7 linked regions of the Homo sapiens genome follow. The gene in region 7 interacts genetically with the main gene of each other region. Each region holds a gene or a part of one and is shown on either strand. Other genes may lie near its edges.

Evidence for each region.
Region 1: changes in RAB2A (region 7) and ARL5B together harm fitness more than expected from each alone (negative genetic interaction), as found in Homo sapiens cells (one large-scale study listed by BioGRID).
Region 2: changes in RAB2A (region 7) and TRAPPC12 together harm fitness more than expected from each alone (negative genetic interaction), as found in Homo sapiens cells (one large-scale study listed by BioGRID).
Region 3: changes in RAB2A (region 7) and CAND1 together harm fitness more than expected from each alone (negative genetic interaction), as found in Homo sapiens cells (one large-scale study listed by BioGRID).
Region 4: changes in RAB2A (region 7) and ARL5A together harm fitness more than expected from each alone (negative genetic interaction), as found in Homo sapiens cells (one large-scale study listed by BioGRID).
Region 5: changes in RAB2A (region 7) and VPS45 together harm fitness less than expected from each alone (positive genetic interaction), as found in Homo sapiens cells (one large-scale study listed by BioGRID).
Region 6: changes in RAB2A (region 7) and TRAPPC11 together harm fitness less than expected from each alone (positive genetic interaction), as found in Homo sapiens cells (one large-scale study listed by BioGRID).

What each region holds. Positions count from the first base shown.
Region 1 is NC_000010.11:18,678,935-18,682,592, reverse strand, and holds the end of ARL5B (ADP-ribosylation factor-like protein 5B), read right to left. Parts: 3' UTR 954-3,658; downstream 1-953.
Region 2 is NC_000002.12:3,476,561-3,480,549, reverse strand, and holds the end of TRAPPC12 (trafficking protein particle complex subunit 12), read right to left. Parts: intron 2,856-3,989; coding exon 2,755-2,855; intron 1,958-2,754; exon of another isoform or gene 1,705-1,957; coding exon 1,617-1,704; exon of another isoform or gene 1,332-1,616; coding exon 1,089-1,331; 3' UTR 985-1,088; downstream 1-984. UniProt on the Homo sapiens protein: Component of the TRAPP complex, which is involved in endoplasmic reticulum to Golgi apparatus trafficking at a very early stage.
Region 3 is NC_000012.12:67,300,086-67,304,388, reverse strand, and holds part of CAND1 (cullin-associated NEDD8-dissociated protein 1), read right to left. Parts: intron 2,067-4,303; coding exon 1,774-2,066; intron 1-1,773. UniProt on the Homo sapiens protein: Key assembly factor of SCF (SKP1-CUL1-F-box protein) E3 ubiquitin ligase complexes that promotes the exchange of the substrate-recognition F-box subunit in SCF complexes, thereby playing a key role in the cellular repertoire of SCF complexes.
Region 4 is NC_000002.12:151,817,952-151,822,254, reverse strand, and holds part of ARL5A (ADP-ribosylation factor-like protein 5A), read left to right. Parts: intron 1-4,303. UniProt on the Homo sapiens protein: Lacks ADP-ribosylation enhancing activity.
Region 5 is NC_000001.11:150,070,428-150,074,730, forward strand, and holds part of VPS45 (vacuolar protein sorting-associated protein 45), read left to right. Parts: intron 1-1,738; coding exon 1,739-1,799; intron 1,800-4,303. UniProt on the Homo sapiens protein: May play a role in vesicle-mediated protein trafficking from the Golgi stack through the trans-Golgi network.
Region 6 is NC_000004.12:183,686,793-183,691,095, reverse strand, and holds part of TRAPPC11 (trafficking protein particle complex subunit 11), read right to left. Parts: intron 1-4,303. UniProt on the Homo sapiens protein: Involved in endoplasmic reticulum to Golgi apparatus trafficking at a very early stage.
Region 7 is NC_000008.11:60,586,128-60,590,430, reverse strand, and holds part of RAB2A (ras-related protein Rab-2A), read right to left. Parts: intron 1-4,303.

The sequences.
Region 1 (3,658 bases), on a different chromosome or scaffold from region 7:
CAAAGCTTTTCAAATTGTACACTTTAACCACGAACAGTTTAATGCATTCATTATACCTACAAAAATACCTACATAAAACATGCTTTAAAAAAGATACCAATCTTAAGTTTACTGATTAAAAAATAACAGGCAGAATGAAATCTTACTAGTTTCTGGTGTCTTTCAGAAGAAATCTGAGTGTTCCGTGTGTAGCAGAACTCTTAAGCCTAGGTACCTGAAATTCCTAACCTTCTACTCAAAATTCCTAACTCTGTAATTATGAGTCATTTTTCTACGTAGGCAACTTTTATCACATTCCCAAAGAGGTCTGTGAGCAAAAACGGTGGAGTTAAAACCACTTTAGAGGAATGTGAAGAATGAACATAGTGAAAATGTTATCCCACTCATTATTAGATCTCAATTTTATTTTATTTTTTACAAGGACACAACTTTGGTAGATGATCCCAATTATACCCCACAATGGAGTACACACCAATCCGGATCACCTTCCCAGGCCAGGGATTCCCCTTCTCTGGTAAATGCACCTTCCACTTGGCCAGTTGTTTAGATCAGAGAGAGGAAATGACCCAATGCAGGCTAATGAACAATTTCCCTGGGGAATATGGAATTGTAATTGAAAGTCTAACAATAATCTGACTTCTCCCTTGTACAAATTTAGGAGGCTACTGGACTTGGGACATTATCTGTTATGTGGATCAGGAAACAGAGAAATCCAGTCAGGTGAAAGACAGAAACAGATGAGCAGGAAAAAAGGTAACTTCCTGCTTGCTCCTAAATGGTCCAGTCTCTAGTCTCAGTCTGTTCTACAAATCCAGTTGTTCCGTGGGTTCTGTGAGCCTCCACCACCTCACCCCAATTATCCTCTCTTTGTTGGCATAGGTGGGTTTCTATTATTTGCAAGCAAATAACTTAAAGCAGATTTACCTTTAAAAGAAAACACTGGATTCACTTCGTATTGGAAAAGTAATTATTTATTATGACAAAAATAAAACTGTTGAATGAAAACAAATGAATGTTACACTATATTGCACCATGATTGGAAATGAGCCAAAACCTGTCTAAAAGATGAACATTCCAGAGCAAACAGCATCGTTTTACTTGGGTTAAGTAGGCATGCAAACAACTCATTATAACATAATTGCAGAAATAAAAATTATGAGTACTGGCAACCTAAACTTAACATATAAAAGAAGCACTTCATAACTAATAAAGTATTAAAAACTTTAAAACATGTCATTTAAACAATCCCACCATCAGGAAAACATGCTTTGAACCATTTTCAAGAAGTGATCATGTGAATGCATTAATTTACTTGTTTTAAATTTTTTGTTGTTGTTGTTAATGCTTATATATTGGACCAATGGAACACATTTGTTTGGCTGGGGTTCAGACACACAGTTTGTGGTGTGAAAGACATTTTTCTTTCCTCTGCACAATACCGGAGGACCCACAGAGCAATCCAATTCCTAATTCTGACCTTATTAATACCATCTTCCAGTTGACCAAGCATAGTAATGAAGATATTCTTAGAGCTTTCGCAGAAAGCCTGAAGCTTAAGGAGTAACAACAGTTTGTATTTAAATCTTAAGAAATGCACATATATATGAATATAGACACTTTAAAGTTGTTTTGCATTCTGAGGCAAGAAATAATAAATACTGAGTACAGGGCCTGCTGCTTCCTCTTTAATGCTCTAAAGCACCAATTTATGTTAAAATAGCAAAGTGTGATTATAATCATTCACTCTGATTAGAATAAACGCAACACCAAGGTTGTAATTGCTGTTAGGTTTTTGTTGTTGTTGTTTTTAACATGCTCTGTGGAATAGATGAACATGGTAAAATTTGTAACTATTCTGTAATTGAAAAAAATCATGACCGTTTTATTTTACACTTTCACTGAAATAGCAGCTAAACTTTTTTTAAGTCATAAATAAAAGTTTTTGTAACTACACTCAACAGTTTACTCCAAGAGAATAAAATAGGGGCTTCAGAGTCCCTAAATTTCCTGAGGGAAAATATAAGATTAAAATGATTATGGTCTCTTGTGAATAGGGCTTAAATATGCAAATAAGTCACTGATGACTGGGATCAACTGATAGTCATTTGATATCTTACCAACACTGATGGAAATATATTCACAGTATAAAAGAATCCATCAAATTTAGGATTTCTCCTTTCCCTTATCTAATTAAACTAATTAAATATTGACTGAGCACTTTCCTATGTGCTTTAATGAAACCATATGTGAATCTCATATATCTACCATGTTGGCCCAGCTGGTAAACAAGAGTAAAACAAAACAAAGTCTCCAAGGAATGCTATCCCTTAGTTATGAATTTTGCATATTTCAAATACAGTTTGGGTGAAGGGGGTTTTTATGGGATGGTACAAACATCCCACAAACTTGAGCAAAGCACCTTATGGATTGAAAAATGAGGTAATTTTTTAATTAAAATTTTACAAGTTGTGCAAGAAAACATATCCATTCTTTTAAAACTTTGTTTTCTATTCCAAAAGCTATGCACAGCACATTTCATATTTCTCCATTTCCAGGAGAAAATGTAGATTACTGGTTTAAGAAATGCAAAAGATGCCTTTATGTGACTACAGTTCCAAATTCTAAAACCCTAATCAGTCTTCACTCCTTTGGCCACATTAAGAATAATACAGGCCATCTAGCTGTATGGTAAAAAGACAGTATTTTTTAGTAATTTTAAGTACCCTAAATACGAGGAGAGGCAGAAATTCACTGCTTTCATTCACATTTTCTCTTACCTAATATCCTTTTGAAGTTTTTTCGACCTCATGATATTGTCTTTACTTTCAAGTGCTTTGAATTTGTTTTTCGTATGCTTCTAAACCTCCAAATTAATATTTCCCAAATGTTTCACCAAACTATATACATTTAAAGCTGCCTTTAGGTCTGAGGGGCACAATTTTTTTTTCTGCTTTAAATTTAAAATGGAATAGTTGAACATATTTTTTTATATTGGTCTTCCTCTATTTATTTTGGTCCCCTAAAATTTTTTAAAAATACTTTTTTGGGGAACCTGGCTTTTGGATTTCAGTCTTCACAGTAAAAGTGAATGAATAAGGAGGAGACGCTACTGAAAAACTAACCTTGAATATAAACCACTTTCAGATTTATGTAGACATTTATGTAGACATTTGTAAAAGACTGACAACCTGGCTACTAACCCTACTCTTTCAATATGGAAAGTCACACAGAACTATAGACTGGGGTGGCATCAAACGGCAATAAACTCTGAACAAATTAACCACTTCCATTCAATTAGTACAAGCCAAGAAAATAAGGTAAATTATCTAGAAGAGAATTATTTCCAACACAGGCTGGTTCTTTCTAAGCAGCTTACTATCCTTTTCTTAGCAATATGGCTTGTTTTCTCTTTTGCATTGTCATTAGCTATTTCTATTCAGCTATTAATTCGCTGAATTTAAGTTGAATAGCAGTTACTGATACGTTTTTCCCTACTTGGTTGTATTCGTATTCTAAATAAAATAACAGGTGGGAATCAAATAATGGATAAAAATACATTTAATTTCATATTACCTGTATTGCCCTACTATTTGAGGGATTTTTAATTTTTAATAGTAGTATATAAGCATTCAGAATTTTAAAACCAAAAGACATTTTA
Region 2 (3,989 bases), on a different chromosome or scaffold from region 7:
TCAGTTCTCTTTTTGAAGAGAAAGATCTTGAAACCTCCTTGGTGTCCAACAGTCCTTTTGGCTGTCTCACCTCTTTTTTCTTTTCTTTTAATGCATAATTAATCTAGATGTCAGCAAATGGGCTGAGACTGTCTGGTAGATGCAGTGTTTGTATGTTTCTACTCTATTACAAAAATTAACAGAAATATGGCTTCGCTTTGTGCAAATGTTTATATCACAGTCTGTAAAATGAATTATATTTAAAACTATCCACAAAGCTAGATATTTAGAGAACCCTTGGCAGAGTTCTTTCGTAAAGTGAAGACATTTTCAGGTACTTTAAGTTCTTCAAAAGCAGGAATAACTGTGTAAACGTAAGGGCAAAAGGCCTTTCAGGCATGAGAGAACACATGAAAACACGTGTCTGGCTTCAAAACCACCCCCAGCCCCTGCCTGCCTGCGTTTTACGCGCTCTTCCTGTGCTTCATTATGCGTCGTGCTTCCTGTTCCACTCAGCTCACTCTCCACGTGGACGTATAAACTATGGGAGAAACAGTGATGGCCTCTCCTCCACCGCCAGGCTGGCAGGGGTCGTTTGGCTGGCATCAGGCTGGAGGAGACTCGGATGGGTAAGACCAACGCACTTAGTTTTGGGTGTGTGGGGAGGGCAAGAGGAGCATGAGCGGCGATCTGTGGGGGGTGTCTTCCCTGTTGTAAATCTCCCTGTACGTGCAGGTGCACGGCGAGAGGGTCTCCACACCTCCCAGCTTTTCTCTGAGGATGTCCAGAAGGAACGAGCAAAGCAGGATTGGCCTCCAGAACAGAGGCCCCGAGGCTGACTCCAGATTTCCTGTCTACGAGCTGTGTCCTCCCAGCACGCCTGCCCCTTGCATTCATGAACAGTGACCCAGCTGCAGGGACTGCGTGGCTGAACGCCGACCAACTGCGGGGAAGTCCTGGGCTGGGCCGTGGCTTGGGACCAAGAAGACACGCAGCAGACACCAGTGAAGCAGGAGTTTTATTGAGTTCCTCCATGTCACATTAATACATTAGCTTCAAGACACAGTTTCAAAGACCCGGGTCCTTCTGACGTAGTGTGTTGGAGGCAGCTAGGCCAGCTTGAGGCACTGTGTGTTGAAGCTGTCCCCCTCCTTGCCGGCGACAGCCTCCAGCAGGGCCTGTTTCTTCTGCATGCTCCGTGAGGACTCCAGCTCGTACATGGTGGTCAGGTTGAAGAGCACGCTCTCGTGCAGGTAGTGCCTGGGGTCCTGCTGGACCATGGCCTCCAGCTGCCGCAGGGAGTCCTTGAGCTTGCCCAGGTAGAGCAGACACACGGCAGCGTTGTTGTTGGCCTAGGGAGGAGCACACGCCCAGGGTTGGCCCACACAACCAGGACAGACGCCCGCCCATTCCAGGCTGCGTGCTGGGCCGTGTTAGGGGCCTGGGGGTGGTGCAGAGCTGCTGGGCAGAGCCTAGGTGGCCCTGTTGGGTCACTTCCCCTAAGGGCCACAGCCACTGCCTGGAGCTGGTGGACTGGAGAGAGAGAGCGCAGGCCCCTGCTGAGACGTGTGTGGGTGTATGTTTCTAGCGTCTGTGAAAGGCAGAGGATGGAGGATCCTGCAGCTTGGGGATCTTACCACTGCGTTTCTTGGATCCATCCTTAAGATCTCTGTGAAGAACCTGTGGGCTTCTGCAAAGTTATTCTGCCCGAGGTGAAGGAACGCGCTGTAACACAAGCAACGGTGGCAGTTAGCGGGGAAAGCCCAGGAGCTGCTGTCCCCCAACACAACCCACAGGGGCTTTGGATCCCACAGAGACCCAGCGTATGGCCCTGTGTGGCCCGGGGTTCCTGATCTCCAGGTAGAGGCGGTGAGCTGCGTTTTGCATTCAGGCTCGCACATTAAAGCCACTCTAGTTTTTATTTATTTTTATTTTTTAGATGGAGTTTTGCTCTCGTTGCCCAGGCTGTAGTGCAGTGGCACGATCTCGGCTCACCGCAACCTCCGCCTCCTGGATTCAAGCAACTCTCCTGCCTCAGCCTCCCAAGTAGCTGGGATTACAGGCGACTGCCACCACGCCTGGCTAATTTTTTGTATTTTTAGTAGAGATGGGGTTTCACCATGTTGGCCAGGCTGGCCTCAAACTCCTGACCTCAAGTGATCTACGTGCCTCAGCTTCCCAAAGTGCTGAGATTACAGGCATGAGCCACTGCACCCGGCCAAGCCACTCTAGTTTTTGTTAATTGAGATAGAGTAACTTCACCTAAATGACTTCCTGCTAAAAGCGGACACCTGCTTTATTTACGCTTTCTGATCCTGGCTGCAGGCTTTGTCCAAGGCGTGTTTCCTCCTCACGAACGTGCACTCGCACGACGCTGTGCGTTCTACCACAGAACACCAGAGCACGGGATCCAGACACAGAACACCAGAGCACGGGATCCAGACACAGAACACCAGAGCACAGGATCCAGAACGGCCGCTACGCCAGCAATGGTGACCTTTACACACACATACGCTGAAAACGGGGGCAATACAAGCGCTTCTCTGAAGAACAAGGGGGAATAGCTCCTTAAAAATCAGCTTCTGTGACTAAAAGAACATCACTGCGATTCAAGAAAACACCTGTATACTCCTTGGGTCTCCGCTCTGAGAGACACAGGGCAAGAGGAGATACAGGGAGAAGCGCCTTCTCTAGGGAGCTTTCCAACTCAGTAAGTGGGGCTTGAACGCCTCTGGGAAATTTGAGAAAACATATATTTAGTTTTAAAATATTTACCTGTTCATCAAAACCATGATTTTACCCTGTAGTCCATCTAATTTCTGTGTTACTTTCTCAACGTCTTGAAAATACTTTTCAGCTGTTTTTATGTCTCCAATCTGCTTTGACAAAATTTAGTCAGTTTAGTTGACAAAAGAAATATTAAGTCTATACTCATATATTTAGTTCCCTAATATCATGTTAGAATATGAAGACATTTATATGTCAGGCAGAGGAAAACTTCAGTAACCATTTAATCATTTTTTAATAAAAAGGCAAAAGACATTTAAGATACAGTGGAATGTTAATGTTCTATATGTCAGAAACTAAGTTGCTAATATACACGCCTTATTTAAGAGTCTTATAGTTTAGTAATTTTTACCTTTTGGAATGAATTCTGGCAGAGCATTAGATAAAATAAAATGAATAACTAATAAGATGAAACATAAAATACTTAAAATATTGGTATAATATGAGCAGGTCCTACGTCAACTTATGAGTTACTTGTGGCTAGTAAAATGGTAGGTGCCACCACATTTGCAAATTGCAAAGTAATATTTTGACCAAATAATATAGAATTCAACTGTAAAAAACAAGCCAAACCAAACTCAAACCCACTCTTATCACGCATGTCAGGAAACCCACCGGCTGCCCGACTGAAATGCAGCCGGATGCAGCAGGCCTGTGGCAGAGGAGGCCTGGGGGGTGGAAGGCTGAGTGCCCCAGCCCTGACTCCTGAGGCCACAGCTTGGTTTTACAAAGGCAGACTTGGGTTTTCTTTCACCTCTAGAAGTGTAAGGAAGGGAATAAATGATCTAAGGCTTACAATAAGAAATAGATACAAATGAAAGAAAAGTCCTATTATGGCCCAAGCCGCGCTCACGAGGGTAAAGACAGAGTTGCTTTGTGTCCGGGGCACAGCCTGCGGGAGCCAGAATGTGACAGCGAGCTCTGTTATCATGGCAGCAGCAGAAACTTAACAGAATGCTGTCCTCTGTCTCGATGAGAAACAAGCTGAATGCGCGCGGCTCACCTCCATGAGGAGGGCTGGGGCACCCATCACTATCATACTGAGCAGCCTAGTTAACTCTTAGACTGTCCACGCCAAGCATCTGTCCAGCATTAAAACAAGCCTGCTAACTTCTCAGATGACTGGTGGGGAGATGGTTCTCCATGGGTGTCATGTTTCTGCATGTCTTCCAAGCACAGACAGTGACAAGGCTTTGTTCAAAGCATTTACACAAGGATGCCTG
Region 3 (4,303 bases), on a different chromosome or scaffold from region 7:
ATTACAGAAAAGCTATCATTTAGCTTTCCAGAGAGCAACAAAATAGTCTTCCCTACTTAATTTTTAATTGTGAAACATACATGACTAAAAAGAAATTAATAGGCTGGGCACAGTGGCTCACGCCTGTAATCCCAGCACTTTGGGAGGCTGAGGCAGGCAGATCACGAGGTCAAGAAATCGAGACCATTCTGGCCAACATGGTGAAACCCTGTCTCTATTAAAAATACAAAAATTAGCTGGGCGTGGTGGTGCATGCCTGTACTCCCAGCTACTCGGGAGGCTGAGACAGGAGAATCGCTTGAACCCAGGAGGCGGAGGTTGCAGTGAGCCGAGATAGCACCACTGCGCTCCAGCCTGGCAACAGAGCAAGACTCCATCTCAAAAAAAAAAAAAAAAGAGAAAGAAAGAAATTAATCAAATCATATTTTCAATAAAAAATTTAGGAGGTTAATTTATAAATGGTATTTTGAATGACAACAGCACAGATAAAAATCAAAGGAAACAAGACAAATTATGGAAAAGCAACCATCGAACAGGTCCTTTTCTTACTTTCCATTTGCTGTTAGAAGGAATCAACCTCACTTCAAATGTAGCTACAAGCAGCAGGGGTATGATTAAAAGACATCTGCTCTAAACTTCCTAATGTTTTGCTAGTCAGTAAAACAAACAGGGTCTCTACTAACAAATCTTACGGATGCAAAGCTATCAACGGAGCTTCTAGAATACCTCAACAGCAAAGCAAGTACAGAGTAAAAACAAAAAGCCAAGAAAAATCCCAACAACCAAACTACATGGACACATACCCTAATTACACAATGATCTAAGAACTAGACAAAACAAAAAAAATGTCTGACTTTCCATAGCATTGTCAGAATTCCTGGCAACTCTACTGAGCAATACCTGACTTCTATATACTCACTCACTTGCATATGTCCTCCATACACTTTATCTCATTTCCTTCTACAATTAATCTTCAACATTCACCTTTATGAGTAAGTTCACCACAAAAATGTATTTATTTGTACTACTTAAAAACAAGATAGATACAGTATGTGTGTCCCGTCCTCTCCACTGGTTTAATCCCTGGCAATATCTGTTTTGTAATCTATAAAAATTGACCTACTATTTGTGCATCCCATAGGGCTGCTGTAGAGATTACATATAAGATAGGAGAATGCCTGGTATGTAATAAATATTCAATAAATGGGAGCATATAATAGCTCTAATGTTTAGGATCTTAGAAAACAAATGCCCTCAAGTGAAAAAATGTGTATTTTATTAGTAAGTACTGGCATATATCAAGCATATATGTAGTAGGCACTACACTGAATGCTCTACACAGATCACCCAGCTCTCACAACCACAGGTAGATATTTCTAAGTACGTTCTTATTACAAATAAGAAAAGTGAGGTTTAATAAAATGACTAAATAACTTGCCCAAGATCACACACCTAAATTAGAAATGAAGTCAGTTATGTGATCGCAAGTAGTATGACTCCACAGCTCTAAGACTTCTCTATTAACATCAAAGATAAAGACTACTTTACTGAATCTTAAAATTATTTAAATATTGTTTATCATGTAAAGCCAAGAATAATTCAATTAGAATAGTTTACAACTAACATAATATGAACATGCATTAACTATATAAACATATCCTAGAACTTTCTGCTTCTCTATAGATATTCTGGAACTCACCTTTCCATATAAAGACAATTTTAAAAGCATTGCATTTACTATCATGATTTTCTAAACTTTACTTTAAAACCCACCTGACTCTGAAGCATTGTTAAAGGTGTTTCTCCCTGCTCCATTGCATCAGGGTCACATAGCCAACTTTGTACAGGACGAGTTTGCTTCAAAAGAGAAAGGTATGCGTGAAAAACATCTGCCTTTACATTCTCTTCACGCTCTTTAAATCTGGATATTAGTGCAGGAGAGACGGTCTTGTAGAATTCTGGAAGCATTTCATGCCTTGTGCTAACTACAGCATCCAAGCACTTCGCAGCTGCACGTCTCACTTTCCAACTCATGTCATCATCATCACTGTATTCATCATCACTCCCTAAGGGTAAGTTTTAATGTAAACAGGCTATTAATGACAAGAGAAGTATATCATTTAAAACAGAAAATCAATTGATATTCTTAACCAAATCAGTTAATCTAACTTTCCGGTAACATATACAGCAACAGGTAGGTTTCAACAGAACTAGAACTTGAACAAAGAGCTTGTTATTTCTGTAAATCTGCACATAAATTAAACTTAAAAAACAAACATAATGGTATTTTTAATTAGTTAAACATTTTCTCATTTACTTTGTAATGAACTGCTGCTTATTTTAACCCTTTAAAATCATCAATTAACACATTCAACTTCTTTAGAATATAAATATTTATAGTCATAAATTTCCCAGCCTTTGAAACAAAATTCAAAGAACTTACTTAACAGCATAGGAAAAATCAAGCAAACAATCAGGGACTTTATAAGACAAACCATGAAATGGATTTGTGGTAATAGAGTAGGTGATAAAAAGAATGGTTACCAATCCCAAAACACTGTAGAACTAATTTGCTGGGAATAAAAAGAAGGTTGACATCAGCTTTGTGACTACAAGGCTTTTCACTCAACTTGTTGATAAGCTGTGAGGAACAAATATGTATATTCTAAACCTTTCACAATTTTGTCTTAATGTACTTTAACAAAACCATTTTTGCTTAATTATACCAAGAAAATGCTGCACACTTAACAGAGGACCATTTTTTCCCCTAATGCTAAACCTTAAACATTCAAAGCAAAAGCACTAAGAATTGTATCTCACTTATCTATACTTGATGGATAACATGTGTGTGAAATCTCCAGAAAATCTTTCTTTCTAACACCATCAGGTTTAATTAGTTGGGTAATATGAAGTCAGAAAGGTGGCAGAAATATTAGCAGTTATCATGATAGTCTAAAATTATCTCACAATAATTTCTTTATTCTTAGATAAGACTATACATAGCCTTGAAATAATAGAGCGGAGTAGTAACTTTTTACTGGCTTTTATTCCAATTAGCTTAGTTTGACAGTCAAATGTAGCCAGCTAGGCCTTAGAAGATTCTACAGTATACAACAAAATAATAAAATTTTCCAACTCAAAAGCTTAAAATTCACCTTAGCACATTACAGGAAAATACAACCAAATACTGCTAAATGCAAGACGTTTGCTTATTTACCAATATCTATTCAAATAAAGTTAAAAGATACTGCCAAAATACACTATCAAGTTAAGAGCACATAAAATTTTTTCCATGTCAATACACTATGGCAATTGCCTCCCAGAAATATAAGCTTTATTAAAAACAAGATTATAAAAAATTAACAAATGTCCTTATTCACTAAAATTACGTTGATTTTATAAATCACAAAAACACCATGGTAGAAAAGTCATTTAATGGGTATAATTCATACTAAGTGATAAAGCAGGTGAAGTACCTAGTTTGTTATACAGCACACAAAAAAACAAAATTCAAAACCTGGAATATACATTGCTACTGCTTTCTTCAAAAGATATTCATATTAAAATATAAGCTAAAGTTTCCCTTCATTAATACAACCCATTTATTGATTGCCTGTGTGTCAAGTACTGTCCTAGGCACTGGAATAAAGCAGTCAATCAAGAGATTAAAACATCTAGCCTTCATGAAACTTATATTCTAATAGGTAGGAGACCATCAATTACAGTATGTCAGAAAGTTACTAAGTGTGATAAACAAAATAAAAACAATAAAATGAAAGATAGTTCTGAGGTGGAAGACTAGCTGAGGGATGTGTGAAAAAGGAATCAGGTATGACTGCAAGGTTTTTGGCCTGATCAACTAAGAAGAATAGAGGTACCATTCTGAGATGGAAAAGGCTAAAGAAGAACAGGTTAGGTGGGAGATGGGGAAGGGGCAGGGAAAAGATATTTTAGATATCCAAGCAGCAATATTAATTAAGCAGTTGCATATGAATCTGGATTCACAAGTGAGATCTGGATTAAAGATAGGATGTGGGTTGCCAGCATATTGATATTAAAGCCAGGAGACTAGATGAGATCAACAAAAAAATCAACAGTATAACAGGTTAAGTTCAAGGACTGAGCCTTGGGATACTCTAAGTACAGTGGTCAGGGTGAAGAAGAAGAAACAGCATCGAAGACTGGAGTAATCACAACGATAGGACTACATCCAGGCTAGAATGGTATCCCAGAAGCTAAATAAAGAAATGTTGCCGAGACTGAGTAATACGATAGGCAGAGTCAAACATTTGCAATCTCATCC
Region 4 (4,303 bases), on a different chromosome or scaffold from region 7:
TGGATCACCTGAGGTCAGGAGTTCAAGACCAGCTTGGCCAACATGGCAAAACCCCTATCTCTACTAAAAATACAAAAATTAGGCCAGGCACAGTAAACTTCTGATGATTCACGTGCAGGTGGTTCACACCTGTAATCCCAGCACTTTGGCAGGCCGAGGCAGGTGGATCATGAGGTCAGGAGTTCAAGACCAGCCTGGCCAATATGGTGAAATCCTGTCTCTACTAAAAATACAAAAATTAGCTGGGCGTGGTGGTGCGCACCTGTAGTTCCAGCTACTCGGGAGGCTGAGGCAGGAGAATCCCTTGAACCTGGGAGGCAGAGGTTGCAGTGAGCCGAGATCATGCCATTGCACTCCAGCCTGGGCGACAGGGCGAGACTCCATCTCTAAATAAATAAATATAAATAAATTAAAAAATTAGCTGGGCATACGGCGAGACTCCGTCTCAAAAAAAAAAAAAAAAAAGAAAAAAAAAAAAAGAAAGCCGGGCATGGTAGTGCCTGCCTGTAGTCCCAGCTGCTTGAGAGGCTGAGGCAGGAGGAGAATCGTTTGAACCTGGGAGGTAGAGGTTTCATTGAGCCAAGCTCACACCACTGCACTCTAGCCTGGGCAACAGCGAGACTGCGTCTCAAAAAAGTCATTGGTGCTTTATTGTGAAAATACAAAAAAACTCAAATAGAGCTACGTCTTGGGAGGAAGCAACTAGAACTTTGTAATGAATGTAGTTTGTAGGTGTTTGGGTGGAGTAAGGAGGTAAAGATCCTCTGGATCATGGATTCTTCATTGGAATGGCCCTCCAGAGATCTCAGACCACATGACTACATGTGGTTTTTTTGGATATTTTCCAGGTTCTGCTTATGTTTGATTGGAGTTTCTTTCCTCCTTTTTGTTTTTGAAGTATTTTAACCATTTGGTAAGAATATGATATGTTCAAATATATTAGTTTGGTTTCCCTTGATTGACTTTAGAAATCTGCTTAGGTCTTAAGAGTTTGGGGGCATGGTTGCATATTTATGCATTTGTAAGTATATAGGAATTCATTGAATTTGTAAAATAGGTAGGCAGAAGAGTAAGATTGTAGTGTGGAGAATGGCATGAGCAAAGTTAAATGATTGGAAAGTTTATGACATGTTCTAGAGACTGAGTAGAGCAGCTTTTCTAAGTTTTAGTACGTAGGTCAAGAAGAGTTAGGGGAAGATTTGGGCTAAGGCTTAGCTAGCTTTGTCACACTCATCCTTTTTCATCATGTTTATCTAATGATCTTACCTGGATTTAGTTATTCACTTTCAGGTGCAGACAGAAGGTTATGGGTCCTCCAAAGCTTCAGACCTTGGCTAATTTCTCTCCTCTTGTTCATAGCCATTTTACCTTTCATCTTTCCTTCTACCCTAACAATAACCTAACCTTTCACCTGCTAGGACTTCCGGACATTCTTAACCTTGTAGGGCAGGACTGGATTTCTTTCCCGGCCCAAATTCCATGGCTAGCCACTTCATTTCTTTCTTATCACTGTCTCCGACACGCTTTTCTCTATTAACATTTTCCACCATGCCAGACATATGGATTCTGTTTTTTTTTTTTTTTTTTTTTTTTTGGAGACAGGATCTCACTCTGTCGCCCAGGCTGGAGTGCAGTGACACAATCTTGGCTCACTGCAACCTCTGACTCCCAGGTTCAACTGATTCTCATGCCTCAGCCTCCCAAGTAGCTGGGACCACAAGTGTGTGCCACCACACCCAGCTAATTTTTGAATTTTTAGTAGAGACGGGGTTTCGCCATGTTGGCCAAGCTGGTTTTGGACTCCTGACCTCAAGTGATCCACCCGCCTCAGCCCCCCAAAGTGCTGGGATTACAGGCGTGAGCCACTGTGCCTGGCCCAGACATGTGGATTCCTACCCTGTATCATCTACTATACCTTCTCTCTCCAGTGTGCCTTCTTTATTTCTAGGCACTGTTAAAGAAAGATTTAAAGCAGTTTAAATCCTAATCCACCACAGGATAGGTTATCTAATTTCAGCTTATTGATACTCTAGTTCATTCCATACAGTGGTTGTAAAAGATGATGCATCTTGAAACTGTTAACCTTTTCCTTTCCTCAGTAGGCAACTAAGTTGTGTTATAAGATGAAATCCTGGAATGAGTAATTTCTGCCATCTGCTTTATCTTAGACTTGTCTGTGTGTTATAGCACATGGTTTTGTTCACAGCAGTTTTACCTTGGTGATCATGTTCAGCTAGTGGCCAGGTATGATAAAGAATTTTACCTCTGCCTCCCAGGTTCAAGCAATTCGTCTACCTTAGCCTCCCAAGTAGCTGGGACTATAGGCTCACGCCACCATGCCAGGCTAATTTTTTTGTATTTTTAGTAGAGATGGGGTTTCACCATCTTGGCCAGGCTGGTCTTGAACTCCTGACTTTGTGATCCACCTGCCTCGGCCTCCCAAAGTGCTGGGATTACAGGTGTGAGCCACCATGCCTGGCCTAAGAGTCTTTTTTTTTTTTTCAGTAGTTTTTGCCTAGCTAGTTTTTCCTAACAGAACTGTTAGAAAAGCACCAGGTTTGGAATTAGGACATAGTAACCAAGTCCTAAGGACATGGCTGAAGTAAGGAGACCACTTAAAAAAATACCTGTACTAAAGCCAGATGAGGTTTTACTTTAAAGCTATCATTTTAGGAGGCTATATAGTTTTTCCACTGGTATGTCCTACTATTATTCAATCTATTCTTTGAAACTCAGAAGTTCTTTGGAAACAAATTTTTAAATAATTCTTCATATTTCACTTAACAAAAAAAAAATGGCACTCATTTTAGATACCTTTTACCTTATGACCAAGATGATACGAGGTGGCTCATCTCCCACTTTAAAGTCAAGTTCATCTTCAGAGTTTAAAAGATTTGCCACCATTAGGTGGCAATATTCAAAATGGTGTACCTCAGGCTCTGAAAGCAATTATAAAAGAACCGTAGCAAACTATTTTGAAAAAATGGTAACATGGTTGGAATAAGTGTTTAACCTCCTTAGCTGATTACGGCCCTTGTAAGAAACTGAGAGAGTACTGTTTTTTACTTCGTTGTCTCTGTGTACATTATTTATACATATACACATTTTTTAGTCATTCTTTATTGTTATATATTATAGATTCTTGCCTATGTTTTTGTTTCCTTTTGGACTTTTCCTGCTAATTTTGTACTGTTTTTAGGGTCAAAGTAGTTGTATTTTCTCTGGTATTTCATTGGTCAGAGTAATTGTATTTTCTTCCCAAGTATTGAGAAGCCCATCTAAATTCTGCCCCGTAGCTAATACATTGGGGGAATGGGGTGGAGGCGGGGGCGGGATATATTCCCGTAACTTAAAAATAAGCTGACATTTTGAGAATGCTGTGATTAAAAATCAGTATTCTCCTGGGAAGCTAAAAACTCTTATCCAAGTCAGAGATCAGAGTATAGCCTGATAATGAATTCTAGTTGTGTTAAAAATGTTTATGAGTGCGTGTATTAATAAAACTGAAGAGGAGTTACATCATCAAAAAAGGAATGCTTAATTTTGGGACATAGAAAAATGGAGTTAGGCAGAATTGCCATGCTATTTAAAAACTTTCTAGGTGCAAAGGTACCTTGTCCCAAGGACTCGATTACCTGGCCCTCATGCAGGCATGGCCTTGCTCTAAAGATGAATTCAGACCAGGTACAGTGGCTTGCACCTGTAATCCTAGCACTTTTTGAGGCTGAGGCGGGAGGATTGCTTGAGCCCAGGAGTTTGAGACCGGCCTGGGAAACACAGGGACATCCCATCTCTACAAAAGAAACAAAATATCCAGGCGTGGTGGTGCACACCTGTGGTCTCAGCTACTCAGGAGGGTGAGGTGGGTGGATCACTTGAGCCTGGGAGGTTGAGGCAACAGTGAGCCGTGATTGTGATACTGCAATCCAGCCTGGGCAGCAAGAGTGAGACCCTGTCTCAAAAAAAAAGAAAGGATTCACATCAGTCATTGCAGCCTGTAACACTCCTTGTGGTTGGGATTCCATGCTCCCCAAGTAATCATCTGATTTTAATTCAGCCATCATGTAACATATCCTCAGGGATAGACTTGTTACTTGTCATTCATTTTTCAACATTTGATCTTATTGTATGTTACTCATTTGCTGTTCTTATTTATGTCTTAGTCATTTCCATGAATTGCTCTCTCTGAGTCCTGTCTATTCTGGGATAGTAGCAGAATTGTTTGTGGATCTGGGAGACTAAAGACCACAGACGGGGTTTCGCTCTTGTTGCCCAGGCTGGAGTGTAATGGCATGATCTTGGC
Region 5 (4,303 bases), on a different chromosome or scaffold from region 7:
ATTATTTCCTAATGTTTTTTATTAGAGAAACTCTTTCACTGTTATGTACTGTCTCTCGAACTCTTTTAAGAATCTTTCCTTTTGGCCGGGCGCGGTGGCTCACGCCTGTAATCCTAGCACTTTGGGAGGCCAAGGCAGGCGGATCACGAGGTCAGGAGATCGAGACCATCCTGGCCAACATGGTGAAACCCCGTCTCTACTAAAAATACAAAAAAAAAAAACAACAAAAAAATTAGCCAGGCATGGTGGCAGGCGCCTGTAGTCCCAGCTACTAGGGAGGCTGAGGCAGGAGAATCGCTTGAACCAGGGAGTCAGAGGTTGCAGTAAGCTGAGATCACGCCACTGTAGTCCAGCCTGGCGACAGAGCAAGACTCCGTCTCAAAAAATAATAATAAAATAAAAATTAAAAATAATTTTTAAAAAAGAATCTTTCCTTTTTCTTTTTCCTCTTTTATATATTCTCTTTTGTCTTTTTCCACATTGTCTGAACTTTTAAGAATCTTTTAATTCACTTTGTTATTTTTGCCTAGCATATTACGAGGAAGTAATTGAGGTTTAAAAGATTTATTATTTAAATTTTTTGCCTTAAGATTATATTATAAAGTTAATTTGAAATCTAAATTGCATTTTTAAATCTAAATTACAATTTTTAAAACCCTTTCCCCATTAATAAGCAGTATATATTGCTTACTTTTTTTTAATTCTGTAAAGAAATGTGATTTTTAAAACAAATTAATATGTTTAGGGAACAATTTATATTGAAATTTAACCAGGTGTTATAGTATCAAAAACCAATAAAACCTGCATTATAATCTTATGTAATTGGAATCTTATATTTTGACCATATAAAAATCAACTTTTTTGTTTTAAACTTTCATACTTTATTTTAAAACAATGTAATTGTAGAAAAGATCTTAGCCTGCTACTTGCAAATACTTCACAAACATTGTAGTTGTGCAGAGTCTTACATCCCAATAAGTTAAAAGCCAAAGTGAATATAATTAACTTTATTTTCTCTTGCATGTTAATTTTTAAAGGAATAGACACATTTAATGCTCTATATAGGAATTTTGATCAGGCCAGGCGCAGTGGCTCATGCCTGTAATCCTAACACTTTGGGAGGCCAAGCCAGGTGGATCAGTTGAGGTCAGGAGTTCGAGACCAGCCTGGCCAACATGGTGAAACCCCGTCTCTGCTACAATTACAAAAAATTAGCTGGGTATGGTGGCACAAACCTGTAATCTCAGCTACTTGGGAGGCTGAGACAGGAGAATTGCTTGAACCCAGGAGACGGAGGTTACAGTGAGCCAAGATTGTGCCATTGCACTCCAGCCTGGGCAACAGAGTGAGACTTAATCTCAAAAAAAAAAAAAAAGAATTTTGAGCAAATGAATACAATTTATAGACAAGCAGCTTGATGTGAGTTTGCAGAATTATAATCAATTTTATGTTGTGTTTCAACATCTGTGTCCTTTATATTCTTTATCTTAATTGGCCAAAATGCAGCTGGTTAATATTTAATATTATACACATATTATTAAATAATATATGATTCCCGATCATTGTATTTAATTTATCTCTTTTGTCTCCAGCCCTTACCCACCAACATAAGCACACTTAACCTAGACTTCAATATGCAGTAGACGCAGTAAATAAACAAATCAATGGGTGAATGCTTATTACTTTTTTCCTTAAGCAACTCTCCTCATATTTTGTTTGCTTGTTCTTCATTTTCTAGGAGAATGTGGATTATATTATTCAGGAGCTCCGAAGACCCAAATACACTATATATTTCATTTGTAAGTATGTTAGTTCACTTTTTCAAACATGTAACAACATCCCAGTTAGTGTGTTTCATTGAGCCCTTCATATCATCAATAACTTCATTGAATCTGTCACTATAAAAGTCTAGTTTATTTAATGTCCTTCCAAAGTATTAAAAATCTTTTGACCTGCCGGGCGCGGTGGCTCACACCTGTAATCCCAGCACTTTGGGAGGCCAAGGCGGGCGGATCATCTGAGGAGTTTGAGACCAGCCTGACCAACATGGTGAAACCCCATCTCTACTAAAAATACAAGATTAGCTGGGCATGGTGGCACATGCCTGTAATCCCAGCTACTTGGGAGGCTGAGGCAGGAGAATCGCTTGAACCGGAGAGGCGGAGATTGCAGTGAGCCGAGATTGCGCCATTGCACTCCAGCCTGGGCAACAAAGCGAAACTCCATCTCAAAAAAAAAAAAAATACTTTTGACCAATATTCTGTTTCAGAGGGCTAAATGTGATTTCCATTCATCTTTGATTGCTTAAATTAAAAATTTTACATTTTACTTTGCCTTTCAAGATGCTTTGTAAGTCAAAAGTTTTAAGTAGACAAATTTCACATCTCACCCCTGCCAAAAAAAAAAAGTATATACTTATCCCTGTTTTACACTTAAAAATTGAGGCATGGAAGCTGATTTATTTTTTGAAGTGGGAAGGTAATACTTGAGTTTGCTGGAAAAGCAGAAATTTACTTTACATACCAGATAAAAGCCTTTCACTTCTCTTTGTTACTATATTTAATGCACTGAAAGTATAAATCATCAGGTAGTGATCTCTTATGTGCACAACTTTCTTGGAGTGGGGGTTAGGTAGGGGAGATCTGGAAATAAACTAGGTTTGTGTTTACTATACAATTTACATGGATTTTTTTGATCCAATACATTCGGCTGTAGAAGTTACATCTATTCTCCTCTAGATGTCATTATTTATCTTTATGTTAATAGTGTTAGTGTAGTCTATTTGGTAACATTTCCAAAACCAAGGACTAGATTTAACAGTAAGTAGGGCATTTGAGAAGTTTTAAAGCTTACTTAAAGGTATTAGAGTTTTAGGGTTTAGACTACAGTCTAAGACGTACATACTTTCTTCAGCGTATACTACTTAAATAGAATAATGATACAAAAAATTAACATTTGCGAAAAGACTATATATATATAAGAGCTCTCTCATATTTTATTTCATTCAGTTCTGTGTAGAATTGAAAAGTTACATAAAGCTTGTCCAGTGGGTTTTCAGTGCACGACGCCCCAAGAGGTAAAAATAGGCAATTTTATTAATCTGTGGCAACTTAATTTTTGTTTGTTTTTGTCTGTTTGTTTTTGGCTAATAGTCACAGGTTTTCTTTTTAAAATTAAACTTTCTATTTTGAAGTAATTGTAGATTCATGTGCAGTTAAAAAAAAAACAACGAATAATAATACAGAGATCCCAGATACCCTTTACCCAGCTTCCCCCTGTGTAGTATCTTACATGATGATAGTACAATATCACAACCAAGATGTTAACACTGATACAGTCAGGATACACAACATTTTCATCTCTATAAGGATCCCTTTTATTAGCTTATATGGACTTCTGTCCCACCCCAACCCCCTCATTAACCCTGGTAACCACTAATATTTTCTCCATTTTATATTTTGTCATTCGAAGAATGTTCTATAAATGAAATCATACAGCATATAATCTTTTGGGACTGGCTTTTTTCACTCAGCATAATTCTCTGGAGAGTCATCCAGGCTGTTCTGTGTGTGTGTGTGTGTTGTTTTTGTTTTTTTTTTTTGTCCGAGAAGCAGTCTTGCTTTGTCACCCAGGCTGGAGTGCAGTGTCGCCATCTCAACTCACTGCAACCTCCACCTCCCGGGTTCAAGCGATTCTCCCACCTCAGCCTCCCGAGTAGCTAGGATTACAGGTACACACCACCACGCCCAGCTAATTTTTGTATTTTTTTTTAGTAGAGACAGGGTTTCACCGTGTTGGTTGTCCAGACTGGTCTCAAACTCCTGACCTTGGGTGATACGCCCGCTTCAGCCTCCCGAAGTACTGGGATTACAGGCATGAGCCACCACACCTCACCTGTTGTGTGTATTAATAGTTCATTCCTCCTTTGAGCTGGAACTGCAAAAAAAAAAGTTTTCTTAATTTAAAAATAGTTCATTTCTTTTTATTGCTGAGTAGTATTCCATGGTATGAATGTACCACAGTTTGTTTAACTATACACCATTGAAGGACATATGAGTTATTTCCAGTTTTGGCTATTACAAATAAAGCTGCTATAAATATCTGTGTACAGATTTTTATGTGAACATTAAGTCTTCATTCTCTGGGGTAAATAACCCCCAGGAGTGCAACTGCTGAGTCATATGGTAATTCCATGTGTGATCTGCCCACCTTGGCCTCCCAAAGTGATGGGATTACAGGTGTGAGCCACCGCACCGAACTTTTAAAGACATACAAAAGTAGAATAGTATCATAAGTTCCAATG
Region 6 (4,303 bases), on a different chromosome or scaffold from region 7:
GCTATCCCTCTCCCAGAGAAACAGTTTGTTCTTTGTTGCACTGGACACTACTGTTTATCACCTCCTTTTCTTGAAGAGCCTTTTTTTACTTGGCTTCTGTGATGCTATAATCTTTCCTGTTTCTCATCCTGCTTGGTTACTTCCTGTTTTTCCTACCTGGAGTGCAGTGGCATGATCTCGGCTCACTGTAGCCTCAACCTTTTGGACCCAAGGGATAGTCCCACCTCAGCCTCCAAAGTAGCTGGGACCATAGGCATGTACGATCACACTAGACTAATTTTTCTATTTTTTGTAGAGATGGGGTCTCACTACGTTGCCCAAGCTGGTTTCAAACTTCCTGGGCTCAAGTGATCCTCCTGCCTCAGCCTTCAAAAGTGTTGGGATTACAGGTGTGAGCCACCAAGCCCAGCCCCATTCCTTTGCTTTCTTTCAGGTCTTCATTTCTCTCTCTGTTCACTTCATTGGAAATGTATTTGTTTCCACGTTCACCATACCATTGTTGCTAGTATCTCTCACATACAGTTGTCCTATTCTGTCTTATTTCCTTAATTACAAGCTTATATCCACAACTGTCTAGAGGACAAGTCCACTACCACTGAAACTCAGCACGTCCCAAAGTGAATGTGCATCTGCCTTCCCAGAAGAGAACAATCCTCATAGATGAGTAAAGGAAGACAGCTTTCATGTTTCTATCTATGGAATCACTATTCTCATCTGTTCAATAAATATCAAGACCTTTCCAAGAGCCATCTTCTATTCCAGCATATAAATTACCTTCATAGAAATTCTTACACAGTTCAAGTATTATACTTTCCCGCCAATTTTCATTTCTATTCCATGCTTATAAAAACTACTCTACTTTTTTTTTTCTTATGGTTTATATTGTGAATTTCTTTTCTTTTAAGACGGAGTCTCACTCCATCGCCCACTAGAAATGCAATTTCAGCTCACTACAACCTCCGCCTCTCAGGTTCAAGCAATTCTCATGCCTCAGCCTCCCAAGTAGCTGAGACTACAGGCACCCGCCACCACGCTCAGCTAATTTTTGGGTTTTTAGTAGAGATGGGGTTTCACCATGTTGGCCAGGCTGGTCTTGAACTCCTGACCTCCAGTGATCCGCCCACCTTGGCCTCCCAAAGTGCTGGGATTACAGGCGTGAGCCACTGCGCCCCGCCTGTATCTTAAATTTCAAATAAGATATATTCAGAATATAATCTAAATTTTAAAACTAATTGCTTTATATTCCATTTTAGCGTTATTAGTTTTTAATTATAGTAGCTTATATTTTTTGTTGAAAAAAAAAAGGAAAGAAAAGAAATGAAATAGTAGGCTATTAAGGGAAAAGTAAAATAAGAGTCCCCATACTTCACTTGAGCCCAGGAGTTTGAGGCTGAGATGAGTTATGATCACATCACTGCACTCCAGCCTGGGCAACAAAGTATCTCTTTAAAAAAAAAAAAAAAAGAGTCCTTGTGTTGACCCTCTAATTTCATAATGAACAAAACAAACAAACAAAAAAAACCCCTGCCCTTCTGCCCTTGTGGAGCTTAGATTCCAGTAAGGAAAAACAGGTAATTTACCAAATAATCACACAGACAACGGTGAAACCACAGTGTGATTAGTACTACCAAGGCTATGAGAGCCTGGCTAAGTGATTCAGTCATGTAAGTCAGGGGAGGCTTCCCTGAAGAAGTGATGCTTTTAAGTGAGAAAAGGCAAGAAGGAATGAAGTAGTCGGAGAGGAGGGCAAACCAATTCAAGCAGAGGAAAGGGCATGTACAAAACCTCCTGTCCTTCATTCATCCTATCCCCACTTTTCAGCCGCTATATGCACTTGGCAATCCAGATTTATCTATTTTTAAATGCCTCTTATATCCCTGAATCTCCATTCCCAACACCAGCAACTCAATTCCGATACTTGTACTTTTGTACATGGATTAATATAAAGAGCCTCTAATTGGCTTCCATGATATTATTTCTATTTTGCTACTAGAATAAAGTTTCTTAAAACTTTAAGAATAAATTGCATGCTCTTGCTTTAAAATTCTCAAACTGGGCCAGGCATGATGGCTCACACCTGTAATCCCAGCACTTTGGGAGGCTGAGGTGGGTGGGCTCCTTGAGCCCAGCAGTTCAAGACCAGCCTGAGCAACACTCCATCTCTATAAAAAAATACAAAAATTAGCTGGGCATGGTGGCATGTGCCTGTAGTCCCAGCTACTCAGAGGAGGCTGAGGTGGGAGGATCACTTGAGCCTGGGAGACTAAGGCTGCAGTAACTCAAGATGGTGCCACTGCACTCCAGCCTGGGAGATAGAGTGCAGCCTTGTCTCAAAACACACACAAACACACACACACACACGCACACACACTAAAATAAAATTCTCAAACGGATTAGAGGAAATCCCTGGGCAAGGGTCTGAAGTTGAATAGAACATACTGATCTTCAGGTGACCCAGCTTCATCTAATCATTTCTATTACAGAGATATTTCTCTTTTCTTATGAATCAAATCCTAATAAAACAGATAACGTTTCTTTATCACCATCCAATAAATAGAACACAGACAAAAGAACAAATAAATCTTCAAAGACATCTGTTTACTAGCCTATCCCCGCTTAACTCTTCCAGGTTCCTTTAAGCCACCTGGCCTTATTTCCCACCACCCAGCATTATAAACCCTCTGTTCTAGTGAGGTGTGACTTTCCCAGAAACACAGATTGTGCGCTTCTGTTTCCATGCAGTGTTTTCTCATTGCCAAACATGTTCTCCCCCTCCATCTTTTCGACCTATCGTAATTTCATCTTCATTCTTGGAACTCCCTCCCTTTTTTCTGGCATGCCTACTACAGCTGTCCCTCTTTCTAGCCTACACTACGTAATTTAGTCTTCATTACCTATTTGGGCAATCTTTGATTCTGTCCTGGCCCTTGTCCCCAAAATGCCTAAATTTTAATGAGGTCGACATATGCTATACTCAGATTCAGCATGTTAAGAATATCGTAACTCTCAATAAATGCTTGTTGGTGAAAGACTCACTATACTTTCTGGGTAATCAAAAGATGATTATCTACTAAGTGAGTTTATAATAGAGTTGTAATGAAGTACTTGACTATATACTATATAATGCTTCAAATATATTCAAATGCAGGAAATATGATCCCAATTCTGCAAGAAAAAAAGTTGCTTATATATTCATGTGCAGAAAATGTCTAGGTTATTCAAGAAGTTAACGTAGAGGGTGTGTGGGAGAATGGAGAAGAAAGAAGACACACATTTACTTTTCACATTATATCCATCTATTCCATTTCAATTTTTTAAATGTCAAACATAAATTAGTTCCATAATCATAAACTAATAACATTAACTAATAATGTTGAAGTAAAATATAAACCAAATGTTTTTTTAATTCTATTCATTCTGAATATACCTTATTTGGAATTCAAGTATACATTATAAAAAAAATTTAAGGCCAGATGTGATGCCTCACACCTGTAATCCTAGCACTTTGGGAGGCTGAGGTTGGTGGATCACTGGAGCCCAGGAGTTCAAGACCAGCTTGGGCAACACAGCAAAACCCTGTCTCTACAAAAAATACAAAAGTTAGCCAGACGTGGTGGCAGGTGCCTGTAGTTCCAGCTACTTAGGGGGCTAAGGTGGGAGTCCAAAAGGTTGAGGCTACAGTGAGCTATGATTGCACCAATGCACTCTAGCCTGGGCAACAGAGCGAGACCCCGTCTCAAAAAAGACAGAAAAAAAAAGTATATATATACTATATGTGTACATATATATATATATACACACACACACAGAGAATTCTTAAGACTTTATAAACATGGAGTGAAAACAAAAATTGGAGTAAGCAAAGTGTAAACTTGAATTGCTAGAAGTTTAGAAACATATATATATATATATTTTTTGACACAGATCTTGCTCTGTCACCAGGCTGGAGTGCAGTGGCACGATCTCAGCTCACTGCAACCTCCATCTCCCGAGTTCAAGTGATTCTCCTGCCTCAGCCTCCCAAGTAGCTGGGACTACAGGCACGTGCCACCACACCCAGCAGATTTTTTTGTATTTTTAGTAGAGACGGGGTTTCACCATGTTGGCCAGGCTGGTCTCGATCTCTTGACCTTGTGATCTGCCTGCCTCGGCCTCCCAAAGTGCTGAGATTACAGGCGTGAGCCACTGTGCCCGGCCCTGGAGATATATTTTTGAATAGACCTTACCAAAGTTCATTTGTTACTATGAAACCATTAAGACATAAAATTCACTAAGCTCATTTTATCTAGTTTAACATAAGCTA
Region 7 (4,303 bases):
CCAGGACTCAAGTGATCCTCCCACTTTGGCCTTCCCAATTGCTAGGACTACAGGACTGAGACACTGCGTTAAGCCTGGGTAGGATTTTTCAAACTGTGTCATGACTCAATGAATTGTAAAAATCACTCAGTAGGAAATAATCAGAATTTTTTTTTAAAAAAAGAAACAATAGGCCGGGTGCGGTGGCTCACACCTGTAATTACGGCACTTTGGGAGGCAAGGCGGGTGGATCACCTCAGGTTAGGAGTTCAAGACCAGCCTGGCCAACATGGTGAAACCCCGTCTCTACAAAAATACAAAAATTAGCTGGGTATGATGGTGGGTGCCTGTAATCCCAGCTACTCAGGAGACTGAGGCGGGAGAATTGCTTGAACCTGGGAGGCGGAGGTTGCAGTGAGCAGAGATCGCGCCACTGCACTCCAGCCTGGGCGACAGAGTGAGACTCCATCTTGGGAAGGGAAAAAAAAAAGAAACAATATAAAATATCAGAGTCTATCACCTATATACATAAGTTCCATCTACTGTTTCATGGAACTTACGTATAAAGGTATAATTTACGAATATTTTGTTATATGTGTAGGTGTATACACAATTTATTTACTAGGTCATGATGTAAAATACATTTCTTACTATAGGTCAAATCAAAAAACTCAAAAGCCATAGTACTTGACGATATACTTAGTGCAAAGTTTTAAAAATACCTCAGTTTTCCAGGCATTACATCATATTGTTGTCTTAGTTCACTCCCTCTGAATCCCACTTAAGTTGCTTAGGTTACTTAAGTATCTTTCTTTTAATTTATGGCCCCTTTTTGTTTAGGGTTTGCATTACAACCCTTACACTATTAAAAAACTTTCATTTTTTAAATCTCTGCTTCCTATTTCTTATATAACCAATTTATTAATAAAATGCCATAGTAAGAAAAATTTGTGTCATCTGTTGCTCTGACTAGGTCACTGCCCTTCACTGGCTCCCTACTGCTTAATGCGTCTAATTCAAAAATTGCTTATTCCCTGTTTTGATGTCTATCCACAGTTCAATTCATCTAAAAATAATCATCTCATTTATTTCTCTCTGTTCTTTCTTGTTCGTTATACTCCTGATTTTAAAGGTCACCCACCTACGATCATCAGAAACATCTCGTTTACATACTATGCTTTGTTTATTTCTTCTCACATTTGAACTATCAGCTCCTAGTGGTCGGTGACCAAATTTAAGCCACCAGTAAGCTGTCACTCATCATGTTTCAGCCACAAGGAAAAAATTGGTAAAATAAAAGGATAAAAATTCTCTTTATTTTCCAAGTATTCTCCTCTTATTATTTCATACCTTGAATGACAGAATAACTATTTCCATCATAGAAAGACTAAAACTTCCCTCCAATAGCTTTATAACCTTAAAAAGGTTTAGTGAGATGATTTAAATGTGGAAAAGAATACCCAAGAAAGGCCTTCAGAGAATATGATAATAGTTTCTTCTCTACACAAAGAAGTAAACAATGTTTAGCTTTTTATAATGTAAATATCACTTAGGTAATATTTTCTCTTAATAGCAAATCTCAATTTCTATTAAAACAACACTCTAAAATCTATACAGTATAACGATGTTTTACATTATAGCTTTTTTGAGGTGTAACAGACATAAAAGAAGTTGTACTTAAATGCAAAATTTGTTGAGTTTTAAGATATGTAAGCCCGTGAAGCCATCAGTCTCCCAAAAGTTTCCTCATACTCCATTGTAATCCATCCCTTCTTGCCCCTGCACCCTAGGCAGCTGATGATCTGCTTTCTGCCACTACAGATTAGTACACATTTACTAGGATTTTTATATAAATGTAATCACATGGTATTTTTGGTCTGAGTTTTTTCACTCTGTAATTATTTTGAGAATCATCCATTTTGCTGCATGTATCAATAGTTCATTCCTCTTTATAGCTGAGTTGTAGTCTGTTGTAATGCTGTATCACTATTTTTCGATTCATCTGTTAATTGATATTTGGGTTGTTTCCAGTTTGGGGCTATTAGAAATAAAGCTGGTATGAATATTTGTACATAATTCTGTGGACACATGAAGACATATTTATGTTGGGTAAACATCTGGGAGTAAAGTGGCTAGGAAATATAGATGTGTGCTTTATTTCTTTTTTTTGAGACAGGGTCTTGCTCTGTGGCCTAGGCTGGAATACAGTGGCATGATCATGGCTCACTGCAGCCTTGACCTCTCAGGCTTAAGTGATCCTACCACCTCAGCCTCTGGAGTAGCTGGGACTACAAGTATGTACCACCATGTTCAGCTACTTTTTTAAAAAATTTCTTATTTTTGTATAGAAGAAGTCTCCCTACATTGCCCAGGCTGGTCTCAAACTCCTAGGCTGAAGCAATCCTCCCGCCTCGGCCTTTTAATTTCTAAAGAAACTACCAAATTGTTTTCCAAAGTGATTGTATCATTTTACGTTCCCATCAGTAGTATATCTTCTGTAGTAATTGCTGGTTCAAATCTTTAGATCATTTTTAAAAAGTGGATGTCTTCTTATTAATGAATTATAAGCATTCTTCATATATTCTAGATATAAATCCTTTGTCAGATACATTTTTCACAAATATTTTCTGCTAGTCTGTAGCTTGTCTTTTCATTTTTGTAACCGTTTTTCTTCAAATTTATTTATTTAAATTGATAGGTAAAATTGCATATATTTATCATGTACAACATATTGTTTTAAAGTATATATACACTGTGGAATGGTTAATCTAGCTAATTTGCATTATCTCACAGTTATCGTTTTTTGTGGTGAGAACACTTAACATCCACTCTTTCAGCATTTTTCCAGAATGCACTATATCATCATTAACCATGTCACGATGTTGTATAATAGTGTAACCGTCTTTTGAAGAACAAAAGTTTTAAATTCAGTTAAAGAACAATTTATTGATTTTTTTTCTGAACTATAAGTTCATGCTTTTCTCTGTCCCATTTAAGAAATGTTTGCCAAAACAGGGTCACTACAATTTGTTTTCTTTTAGAAATTTTAAGTAGTTTTAGCTCTCACACTTAGGTCTATGATCCACTTCCAGTTAATTTTTGTAAATGGTATAATGTAACAGTTGAGGTTCATATTTTTACATATGACTATTAACTGTTTCAGCACCATTTGATGAAAAAGATTACCCCTTCTTCAACTAAATTAGCATCTCTGTCAAAAAATTAATATATCATATATATATGAATCTACTTCTGGAACTTCTTATTCGGCTCTACTGATCTATGTCTGCTTATGCCAAACAATAGTAAATTGACTATAGTATAATAAATCTTAAAATTTGTAGAATAGTAAATTCTCTCCAATATTGTGCCTCTTTGTCAAAGTTGATTTGGCTATTCCGTGGCCTTTGCACATAAACTTTAAAGTCAGCTTGTCAATATCTACCCTCCCAAAAAAGTCTGCCAATGTTTGATAGTTTGATTAGGGTTACAATAAATCTTTTTTTTTTTTTTTTTTTCTTGGAGACAGAGTCTTGCTCTTTTGCCCAGGCTGGAGTGCAGGTGGCACAATCATAGCTCACTGCAACCTTGAGCTCCTGGATTCAAGTGATCCTCTCACCTCTGCTTCCTGAGTAAGTAGAGCTAAAGGCGTGTGCCAGCATGCCTAGCTAGTTTTTTTTAATTATTATTTTATTTTTTGTAGAGATAGGGTCTTGCTACATTCTCAGGCTGGTCTTGAACTCCTTGCCTCATGTGATGCTCCTGCCTTGGCCTCCCAAAGTGCTGGGATTACAGATGTGAGCCATTGTACCTGGCCTTCAATGAATTTTTAGATAAATTTGAGAAGACATCTTATATTTAGTTTTACAATCCATGAACATGGTTATATCTCTTCATTTATTTAGTCTGTTTACAATATTCTCTCTCTTTTTTTTATCTATAGTGATGTCAACCTTTCTTTCCTGATATTGCTAATGTTTGTCTTTTTCCTGATCAGTATCTATTTTATTTTATCTTCTGAAGAATTAGCTTTTGGTTTCATTGGTTTTCTCTCTCTCTTTTTTTTTTAACGGGCAGGAGGCTTTCCTTAACTTTGATTTGCTCTTATTCTAGTTTCTTAAGGCAAAAAAATTAGGCTATTTTCTTTTTTTTTTTGAGACAAGGTCTTGCTTTGTTGCTCAGGCTGGAGTACAGTGGCATGAACACAGTTCACTGCAGCCTCAACTGGGCTCAAGTGATTCTCCCACCTCAGCCTCCTGAGTAGCTGGAATCACAGGAATGCACCATCATGTCTAGCTAAATTTTAAAATTTGTTGTAGAGATG